Linked DNA regions of Homo sapiens: region 2 is linked to region 1. A link means that fine-mapping ties the variant in region 1 to the expression of a gene that starts in the linked region. Tissue or cell type: whole blood. Region 1 holds a variant in brackets; the other region holds the start of a gene. All regions are shown on one strand. Distances are from middle to middle.

Region 1 (5,376 bases):
TGCTTCTTTTTCAGGAGTCTTGGCAAGGGTTCTAGTTTTAAAAGAAAGAGACACAGCCAACTAGATTGAAATGATGTGGAGTTCATCCCTCCACAGTCATATTTTACTGAGCCATTTTTCAATAAATGGACTAAATTGTCCCTTGGAACTCAGTAGGTGGTGCTCTTGTGCTATAGCATAGCATCGGCTTTGGAGAGGTTCTGAGAGCACAGCGGCTGGTTCCAGGGCCTGTGTCCTGTCAGTCCCCTTTCATAGCTGCCAGGCACACACCTGGAGGGCATCACATGGCTGGTCTGGTGAGAGGCTTTCTGTCTTTGGAAATGAGGGGGTGAATTAAGGTCTTTACCTTCTCTAGCCTGTCTGAGCTCTGCTTTCCAGGGGAACCTAAATGAGAGGTTTTCTAACCTTTTAAAGAAAAAAAAAATGTGACTGTTTATCCAAACAATTACGATGTGTATTGTTACCAGTTTTCCAAGATTTTTTATATTGTTATTCATCTGTGATTCCTCAAATCAAAGTTCCTTTCCACATAACTCAGGGTATCATTCTTGTTTATGTTTTCCTTTATGTTAATGTTTGTTTCCTGTTTAAGCTTCAGAGAAGATGCAGCAGAAAGAAATAAATATGTAGTAGAGAAATTTGGAAGTGATGAAGGAATACAGGTGAAAGCCATCGAGTTCATGCAGCAGCTAGTAGTAACTTAGCTGACAACAGACCCTTTTGGCAGGAGCCCATTGCTTTACTCCTTTTGCTATATAATGAGTTCCTTGGTCCGAAGTTGGTTGTGATACCATGATGGTGAATAAGGAATCCAGTCAAGTCCACATTTGGTGATGCTGGAGAAGTGTGGTGGGCAAAGAAGATAAATTTAAATCCAGAGTGAGTTATCTATTACAAGGAGGACAAATCTGTTGCCTGAAGCATTTCAGGGTCTGCTTTTTCATCAAGTTTCTGTAGGGGTTGTATAAAACGAAAGTTACTTCACCTATATCCACCAACTGGTAGGGGAGAGGCAAAATGCTAGTGGGACTCACAGCCTGGATGTGCTGATCTGACCCATTCAGTCACCTGTGATGTCGAAAGGCTACCAGCCAGGTCCGAGTGAGGCCAGGCTGTGGGGCCAGCAGCTGGGCTCCTGAGCTGTGCTGCTGCAGATCCAGTGATGTGCAGTGTGTTTTGTCAAGACAGAGTGCTTCCTCTCCAGTCTACTGTCTAGTATCTTGTGCACTGAGTTTTTAGGTTTTAATGACCGTAGTCCTGATTTACATACTTTGCAGTTGATTTTTTTTTAGCCATCTTTTAATTCTGCCTTTTCAATTTATACTTTCTTATTTTTTAATTAGCTTTTTTAAAAAGCACCCTAAATATACTGATTTTTGTTGGTTTTAAAAATCACCTTAAATATATTTTGTTGGGATTATTTTAGTGTCTTAAGTATACTTTGTTAGGATTTTTTAGCATCTAAATATACCTATTTGTTGGACTGATTAACTTCATCTGAAGTGAATTTGTGATCTAATGTCTGATATTGTTAGTTGCATTTATTTCTTCATGTACTTTAGAACTTTGGTTAAATGACATGTTTTGAATGAGGTTTTAAAAACTTTTCACTCATTCAGTCATTTTTCGCCTCTTTCTCCCTCTCTGCACACTCTCCCCTGTGTAGCCTCATTCTGCTTGTCTCTGTCTGGCTTCCATGGAGCCTGGGTGCAGAACTAGCTTTCACAGTGGGGGCTTAGTTACCTGGGCATTCATGGCTGCTTCACGCAGTGCCTGGTCCTGCCTGACAGGTGTCCTCCATCCTCCCTAGACCGCCACTCCATAGGAGGCAAGGATGCTGCGAGCCTTCCTTCAGGCATGGAGGGGTAGGGCTCTAGTCAGCACCTTCCATCCCACCTTCCAGCAAGGGTGCTAGTTTCTCACTCTGTCGTTTGTGCCTCTGTTTAGCCCCCAACCCTTCTAAGACCCAAACCTACAGTTTCATTGCCTGTTTTTGGACCCTAGCATAGGAGGGGCTGGCTGCTCATGGTTTTGTCCTCGGGGTCTTGCCTCTTTGTGTTTCTGTCTCGTATCGATTTCATAGAAATGTTTATTTTGTGTGTGTGCTTGCCTGTATCCTTTTCCTTTTTTCTTTTTATGTTTCCCCTCTCATTGCTGTATGTTTGGAGTAAAGAGAATCCATCCAAAAGTGAATTTACCGTGCCATCTTAACTGGAAGTCACATGGGCAGAGAGTTTAAAGGAAAGAAAGATACTTGGTTTTACATAGTACTGAAAGCTAACCACAAGAACGCTTCCTATGTGAGCTCAGTGACCCATAGCATATAGTTACTTAAACTCCGTCTGAGGCTTGCAGGCCCCAAAAGATGAGTGGGATTAGGCAGGTGGGATTTATTAGGGTGCTATGGTTCT[CTA/A]CAAAGGTTTCACCTTCTATTTTTCATTTTGGTGGTAATTTTTTAAAAATTCATAATTCCACACACCTAAATGCCTGCAATTCTAACTAAGTAATGTCTTAAAATTTCAGTGCCTGGAGTTGTGTTTGTATTGGTGCCAAGGAGCACTGCTTTAAATATAGGGAGATATTATAAAAGAACAGAGGTGAAAATGTAAATAACGTGTTTGAGCTAAGAGATTGCCGTTGCACAGTGGTTCTGAAGAGGAAAGTGATGCGTGAATTAAGCTGTCTCCCTGCATGTGTTAGTATTGGCCAGTCAACAGAACCTGCCTGTCGGTACCAAGCCCTACATGGTTAGTCCAAAGTGAGTTTCAATGACTGCATCATTGATCACGCTGAATTAATTTTGTCAATTTAAATTTTACTCATTTTGTAGATTTGTTGGTATTTAATTTGTATATTTTTTATATTGTGGTTGTGTAAGAGTTACAAGCATAAAGGTTTTACTGGTTTATGTTTGTTAATATTTAACTAATAAGAAGAATGACTTTAGATAATACTGGGAGCTCTCAACAGTTTTTAAGTTTGAGAACCATGGGTCAAATGGTAATTTAACTCTTGCTGTTGGTTGCAGCAAGCACCTTGCATTTGATTTTGATGTCTTTAGCTCACTCCTGCTCATGCTTCCTGACCTGCTTAGCTCAGGATCGTTTCTCTCTGGGGACTCTGACACCTCCATGCCGGGCTGGTGCCCCTTCCTCATGCTGCCTGCAGCCCCCTGTGTTTCCTTCTCTCCCAGCCCTTCCCACAGTGTAATCTGTGTATGGGTCCCAATTTCCTCATTAGCCATAAGTTGCTTGAGAGTGGGGAACACTGTCATCTTTTTATTTGCAGTGATTTTCAGAGCTCTTGTCATAAAATAGGCTCCTAATAAATGTATGGGTTTCCTTGTTTTTGTTTAGGTAGTAATAAATTACCTGTAGAATCAAGGAGAGAAAGAGGCAGAAATAACTTGGAGCCAAGTCACAAGGCAAGAAGAAGCTTCCTAATATTTTAATAACTAATGTGTTCCTCAGCTCACTTTCTAACTGGTCTAACCAAAACCCAAGTCTTACTGTCAGGTAAGTGAAGTGAGGACAAGAAACGCAAGGAAAGGAAGTAATGATTGTAATAGAATGCATGAGGGAAGGCTGGTATTTTTCAAGTCCGAATGATGGCTCCTTGGTGCTCTGATGGAGAACAAGGTCAGAGATTTCTGTCTTAGCAGCCTCGATGGCAAGCGCTGTGGTGAAGGGATGCTTTTATTTTGAAGCCAAGTCCAGAGAATAGCTCCTCTCCCCCCATTGCTGAGGTCTTGGGTGGGAGAATTGAGCCTAGTAAATCCCCAGAGTTATCTGCTAGATTCAGTTTCCTTAATTCTTTGCAAAGTCATCTGAAGAGTATATATACATACTCTGCACCTGGATTGAAGTTGCCTCCTCCAATTCCTTAGGCCCAGATTTTGTTTACAATTGAGGTTTGTTTGAAATTATCTGCAAATTTCAGGTCTGTGTTTTTGATTAGACTATCTCAGAGGTGGAACGCCACTGACTCAACAGAGAAATAGCCAGCTCCTCCTAGTGGAACTTTTCTTAAAACCTCATTGGTTTTAGGAGGAAAAATACCATTTGTTTCTTTCATAAGCACTTAATGGGAACAAGAATCTTTTATTGTGACTTTCAAAAAAAAAAAAAAAGCCACAAACACAGGGGTAAATTGACCAGTCTTACCCTGTGAAGTGAAGCAAAGAAACATTACATTTCAGCAAATTAAAAATAGTTATCAGGCTTTCATCAAGGAAGAGGAAGAATCTTGTCAACTTAAGTGGAATTGAACATAAATTTCTTAATTTTATATTTGATTATATTTTAGGGGGTTTTAAATATTTTCTGACAAGGTCATGGTGCCCCTAGTTGATGACATTGATTGATTGGAAGCTAAGTATTTGATTTGTCTTTTTTTTCTTTTTCCATAATTAGTGTGTTTTGTAGCATTCTCTCCATACATCTCCTGTTTGGTGCTTATTTCATGAGAGAAAGGACCTCATGCTGAGGGTAAATGGGAAAAAAGTGCACTTTATCAGGTCGCCTCCACTTTGAGAAGCTTATATGGTCCATATTTGGCATGAGTAGACTTAGCTCTCTGGGCTTAGAGATGTTTTAGACCAAAGGAAAGCATTCTTAGACTTTCTTGTCCCCCTGACAGGTACCATGTATAGCTACTTTTGTGTGGTTTAAAATGAGCTTTGTTTTAAATGTTAACAATCTTGGAGCTACAGGGGTTTCTATCAACATAAAATCAGTCAGAATTTTATCTGTTTTATTTTTCTTCTACAACAGCCTTGTTGCTTTTTTTATGTATTTATTTTCCATACATTTGTTCAGTACATATTTATCATGCTCCTACAATGTGCCAAGTATTGTGTGAGTTTGTGGGTTTCAAAATATGCTCAGCAAACTAGGTCCTGAGATGTGTCAGCTAGGATGTGTTTGATTGCAAGTAACAGGAAAGCCAAAGAATGGTGTTAAGGGATTAAGCAAAAAGAGCAGTTCCACATTTGGCTCCTTCATTGCCTCAACTATGCTGTGAGGACACGGGGCTGTGATTCTTCTTTGCTGTTTGCAGTATGTTGGCCAGTCCCCTCAGGTTTCCTTATCCCTGGGTCTCAAGGTGACTGTTACCGTTCTGAGTATCACACAAAGACTACTATGTCAGATATGGAAAAAAGTGAACTCATTTAAAACTGAGGAAAACTGAGAAACCTTTTGTTGAAGTTCAGTTCTCATGCCCTATATTTCCATAATATACCTGTTCCTACAGTTTGATAGGCGAGCAAAAGTAAATACCATGACTGGTCTGTACTAGCCATTCCCAAAATGTGGCTGAGGGCCCAGGGTCCCCGAGACCCTTTTAGGAGGTTCACAAGGGTAAAACTATTTTTAT
Region 2 (5,376 bases), 51 kb before region 1:
TAAAATATTATTAAGATAGTTCCATGTATATGAATGCCAGGCAAAATGAATCCCTATAAATATAAGTTTGGATCTTTATGCTATATATGCTTCCTATTTAGGTCTAATTTAGGCCTAAACATGGTGTCATTTCATATACTGCAAAGTTGGATGAGCCTAGCAATTCTTTATTAACCACTGAACTAAAAAGACAGAAAACTGGGATATGGCAAGACATCAATCATTAACAAACACTAAAAATGATTTTTCAGCGAATATGTAAAAGGATGTGGGTACCAAAATAGATAATTTCTCTCAAGAAATACATACTTTAATTGCTTTCTTTGCTGATAAATGCAGAACTTAAACGTCAACTCACTCTCGATTTGTTACCACAGAGGTGACTTTCTCATGGTCAAGGTGCCACGATGAGTGCCCCTCAGGCATGTATTTCCCTACCCAGGACTTGCTTTTGATTTATCCATGTCACACTATGCACACATCAAAAACACATCGACCTCTCTGCTGTAAAACAGAACGAAATCATGTCCTTTGCAGCAACATGGATGGAGCTGGAGGACATTATCCTAAGTGAACAAACTCAGAAACAGAAAATCAAATATTGCATGTTCTCATAAGCGGGAGCTAAACAATAGGTATACATGTACATAAGAATGGGAATAACAAGACACTGGGGACTCCAAAAAGGGAGAGGGTGGGAAGGGGGTGAGGGCTGAAAAATTAGCTATTGGGTACAATGTTCAATGTTTGGGGGACAGGTACACCAGAAGCCCAATCCCCACCATTACACAATATACCTATGTAACAAGCAAGCACATGTACCCCCGAATCTAAAATTAAAAAACAATCAAAAAGCACCGACTTCCTTAACTGGCATGGAATAGTTTCGAGAATGGATGTAAACACCGAATTCCTTAATGTAGTTGCAGATTCTGCCAGTTTTGTCTCAACCTCTGGATCGGTTCCTTTTTTTAACTACCTTTAATTCTTAAACAGATTGTTGCTATTGCTATGCTATATACTTATTGTATCACTTATAAATGTATAACCTCTGCAAATTAGTCTCTGAATTGAAAGTATTCATTGGTAAAACGGGTATTTCTTCACCATAGGAATAGTTGGACATGTTTAAATACTTGAGAGCTATTTTTATTACAAGCACACACAGCTTTGTGGTGTTTTTTGTTGAGACAGAGTCTCGCTCTGTTGCCCAGGCTGGAGTGCAGTAGTGCGATCTTGGCTTACTGCAACCTTCGCCTCCTGGGTTCAAGCAATTCTCCTGCCTCAGCCTCCTAAGTAGCCGGGAGTACACACTAATTTTTGTATTTTTAGTAGAGACGGGTTTTTGCCATGTTGGCCAGGCTGGTCTCAAACTCTTGACCTCAGGTGATCCACCCGCCTCAGCTTCCCAAAGTGCTGGGATTAGAGGTGTGAGCCACCGCGCCCGGCCTGTAGTGTGTTTTTGAACGTATATGTGAAGTTGTAGCTTTTTTTTTTTTTTTTTTGAGACGGAGTCTCCCTCTGTCGCCAGGCTGGAGTGCAGTGGCGCGATCTCGGCTCACTGCAACCTCTGACTCCCTGGTTCAAGCTATTCTGCCTCAGCCTCCAGAGTAGCTGAGATTACAGGCGCCCGCCACCGCGCCCGGTTAAACGTTTTGTATTTTTAGTAGAGACGGCGTTTCACCATGTTGGCCAGAATGGTCTCGATCTTCTGACCTCGTGATCCGCCCGCCTTGGCCTTCCAAAGTGCTGGGATTACAGGCCTGAGACACAGCGCCCGACCTAAGCTGTAGTTTTATGATTATGATTTATGGTTGTGAGGCATTGATTTAAGACATTTTAAAGCTTAAGTCGTCAGATCCTAGAAGAAAAAAAAATTCACCAAGACAAGCTAATGCCATTGTCATAAATGGGAGTTTGGAGAAAATTTTATTAATATTTGTTTGGGTGGTTTATGTACAGCGTTGAACTGATTTGAACCCCGACCAAACACTGTATGGAACTAATGTACGGTAGGGGAAATCATTAACTGAAGATGCCTTTTTTGTTGCTATTGTTTAGAACGCAGTTAGAAAATCTTATTTTAGAGGTTTTACCCCGTTGACAAAGCCTCAACTTTTCTTCAAAAGAACTAATTTCCATTTTACCTCCCCTACATTTTGAACAGAATATGGAAGAAGCCAGCGCCCCTTCTCCGCGGGCGCTGCTGCAACCCTGCTCCCGCCGGGGCTTCCGCGCGAAACCGGGAACACTGGAGCAGTACCGACTCCGCTCGCCTAGAACCCGCCCCAGCCGGGCCCACTTCCGCCAGAGCCCTGGCCGCGCCCGCCCCGCCCCACGGACCCGAGATTCGTCGGAATTTTCCCGCGACGCCGCGGGAGCGCGCGGGGCCGCTAGCCAGGCCCCAGAATGCACTGCTGACACGTGTGCGCGCGCGCGGCTCCACTGCCGGGCGACCGCGGGAAAATTCCAAAAAAACTCAAAAAGCCAATACGAGGCAAAGCCAAATTTTCAAGCCACAGATCCCGGGCGGTGGCTTCCTTTCCGCCACTGCCCAAACTGCTGAAGCAGCTCCCGCGAGGACCACCCGGTAAGCGGCAGGCCGCAGAACGCAGCGAGGGCGGAGGCTTCCCTCGGGGGTCTGGCCGACACGTCAGCGGCGAGAGCGGGAGGAGGAGGCGAGGGGCAAGAGGGAAGGCTCGCGAGAGCGGGTGGGCCAGGCGCGCCTTGCGGTGGGCGAGAGGGGTTCCCGCCGGCGCAGGGCTGTGGCTAAGGCTGAGGCGGGAGGCGGGAGGCGGGAGGCGGAAGGTGGCGGGCGGTGCCAGCCCGCGGGGCGGGGCCAGGGCGGGGAAAGCGGGGGCGGGAGCCGGCGCTGGGGTCGCGCGGAAGGGAGCCCCCGGAGAGGCGGGAGCCGGGTGTTGGCGTTTTGGTTCTTTTTGTTCATTGAGCGCAGGCAGCTATGTCTTCTTCAAAGGAGAGGAGCAAAGGTGAATTTCTCTGCCTCGGACTCGTGGGAGCCGTGAAAAGCTCGCCCCTTTGAGCCGGTCGCCCTCTACAGCTGGCCTCGTCCTCCCCGTCCCTCACACCCCTGCCCCCAAACCCCATTCGCCGGGGCGCCAGGAGGGGCGAGGTCCAATTAGAGGAGCCCGGGGCGCGGCTGTTACCCCTCCCGCCCTCCGCCTTTTATTCCCGGAGGGAGGCGGGTTCGCAGAGGCCAGTGTCTTCCCTCCATTCTTTTTGTGGACGCCAGGCCATATCTTCAAAGCCCGTGAGAGATTTTTCAGGTGCTGTTTGTTGGTTTGCTCTTTTTAATTTTTTAGGTGGGTGCGTTTACAACTACGAACCCTCTATGATCTTATGTGTCCAGCGCACCGAATGGGGGAAAAGACTTGGAGTTTTATAACATGGGAAATTGGGTACCAGAATCTTAAGGGAAGAGACCAAGGAGTTTTCTAGCAAAGTCCTGTATGTGCCTGGACTTTTGTTCTAATCTGAAACTTGGAAAACTCCCGGGCATCTGATTTTATTCTAACTTGTGCCCCATTTAATGCATCTAAACTGTGATGTGATTTGACTTAGCATTTATCAAATGAGCAGAGCACTTTTGGGCCACCCAACTTCAGCTCTTTGTGGCTGTCACTCACTGTCAGTGATATGCCCTCAGACAGATCGTTTTCTCCTTACTCCCCTGAAAGGTTGTTACAAACAGTAGAATTCATACCATGTGTTGAGATCATTCATTACCTAAGCTTAGATGGAAAACATGTTCATTGCGACTTTATACATTAAACTTGAATTGATGTTTCAATGTTATGTGCTGTACCAGAGTCACCTGGAAATAAGCACTCATATACATTATTCATATACAAGAAAGGCTGCATCGAAAAAGAATTTGTTTTCCTAGATATATCAGAGATCTTTTTCACCAACCCACTACTCCCAGTAATAGAGCCTGCTTCTTGAGAACTGGACTAATTATACTTTGTATATTATACATTCGAATTTATTTTTGCTTTATTCGGTCATATTTTCTCTTGATTTCTCCAAAAACGTTTACCAAGGCATCAGAAAAGAAAAGCAGGCTCTATATTGGTATTTTTTGTTTTGTCCTCTAATAAAAAGCATTAACTTGATTGATTGGCTGGTTGTGGAAGATGTGTTGCTGCATGTATGTGCAACTGTGCATGTACATTTTAAAACAAATGGTACTTTTAACCAGTTCCATATTTCAGCAGGTAGTTCCAATAACAATTATACAAATTTCGTGTTTATGAGAACCAGCTACAGGGAGGCCAGCCTGGCCAGTAGAAAGTTGGATTGATTATCTGGGCCATGGAGAGAGCCAGAGGAAACTCACATGAGTGGTAGTTCCAAGTTGGTAGTGTTAGGGCCTCAAATCGGGCTGGAAATGAGCACCAAATGATTTTTAAAAGTTTTATTTTAGGCTGGGATATGTGCATTCTCTGTCTTGTTTGTGGATCTTGAGTGATTGACTTAATGTGAAAAAATACATACAGGAGAAGCACCTTGGAAGTTTTGCAATGTTTTAATAAAAATGCAGAAGTGGAGAAGGAAAGGCAATTCAGATAACAGGCAGAGCATGGTGGCTTATGCCTGTAATCCCAGCACTTTGGGAAGCGGAGGCGGAAGGATCACTTGATCCCAGGAGTTCGAGTCCAGCGTGGGCAACAGAGAGAGCCCTGTCTCTACAAAAAGTTAAGAAATTAGCCGGCCATAGTGATGCGGGGCTGTGGTCCCAGTTACTCGGGAGGCTGAGGTGGAGGATCACCTGAGTTCAGGAGGTCGAGGCCACAGTGAACTGTGATTGCGCCACTGCACTCCACACTGGGCAGCAGACTGAGACCGTGTCTGGAAAAATAAAATTGGTAACAATTCAGATTGGCCACCAGAGTTGGACTGGGGGCTAGCAGGCAATGGTTTTACCTCCATTTTGAGATTGGCATCTTCTAACTCAAGTTTAATACGGGACTGAGGGTAAGAGACCTGCATGCCTTTTATGTCAGCATTACATTATCTTGATTATGGCAGCTTTATAGTAAGTTTTGAAATTAAGTAGTGTAAGTTATCCAATGTTTTTCTTCATTTTCAAAATTGTTTTGGCGGTTCAGGGTTCCTTACATTTCCATATAAATTTTAGTATCAGTTTGTTATTTTTTTTCAGAAAACCGTGCTGTGATAGACTTTGTAGGAATTGCATTTAATTTTGCATATCTATTTGGGGGAGAATTGCCATCTCATCATGAACATGGAATCTCTTTCCATTTGTTGAGCGCTTTAATTTCTCTTAGCAGTATTTAGTAATTTTCAGTGTACAAATTTTGCCCTTTTGTAAATTAATTTTGAAGTTTTATTTTT

What was found.
Region 2: FANCC starts here. The variant in region 1 is fine-mapped to the expression of FANCC in whole blood (TOPMed, PIP 0.92).

What each region holds. Positions count from the first base shown.
Region 1 is chr9:95,263,735-95,269,110 of GRCh38, reverse strand. The region is part of intron 1 of FANCC (FA complementation group C); the gene reads left to right. Among named protein-coding and RNA genes, the nearest start is that of FANCC, 51 kb to the left of the region's middle. RefSeq lists a silencer at 90-384. The variant CTA/A (reference allele first, on the strand shown) is at 2,412.
Region 2 is chr9:95,314,740-95,320,115 of GRCh38, reverse strand. It overlaps FANCC (FA complementation group C), which reads left to right and starts at 2,407. Exons shown (of 15, transcript NM_000136.3): 1 at 2,407-2,590. RefSeq lists a silencer at 2,736-3,055.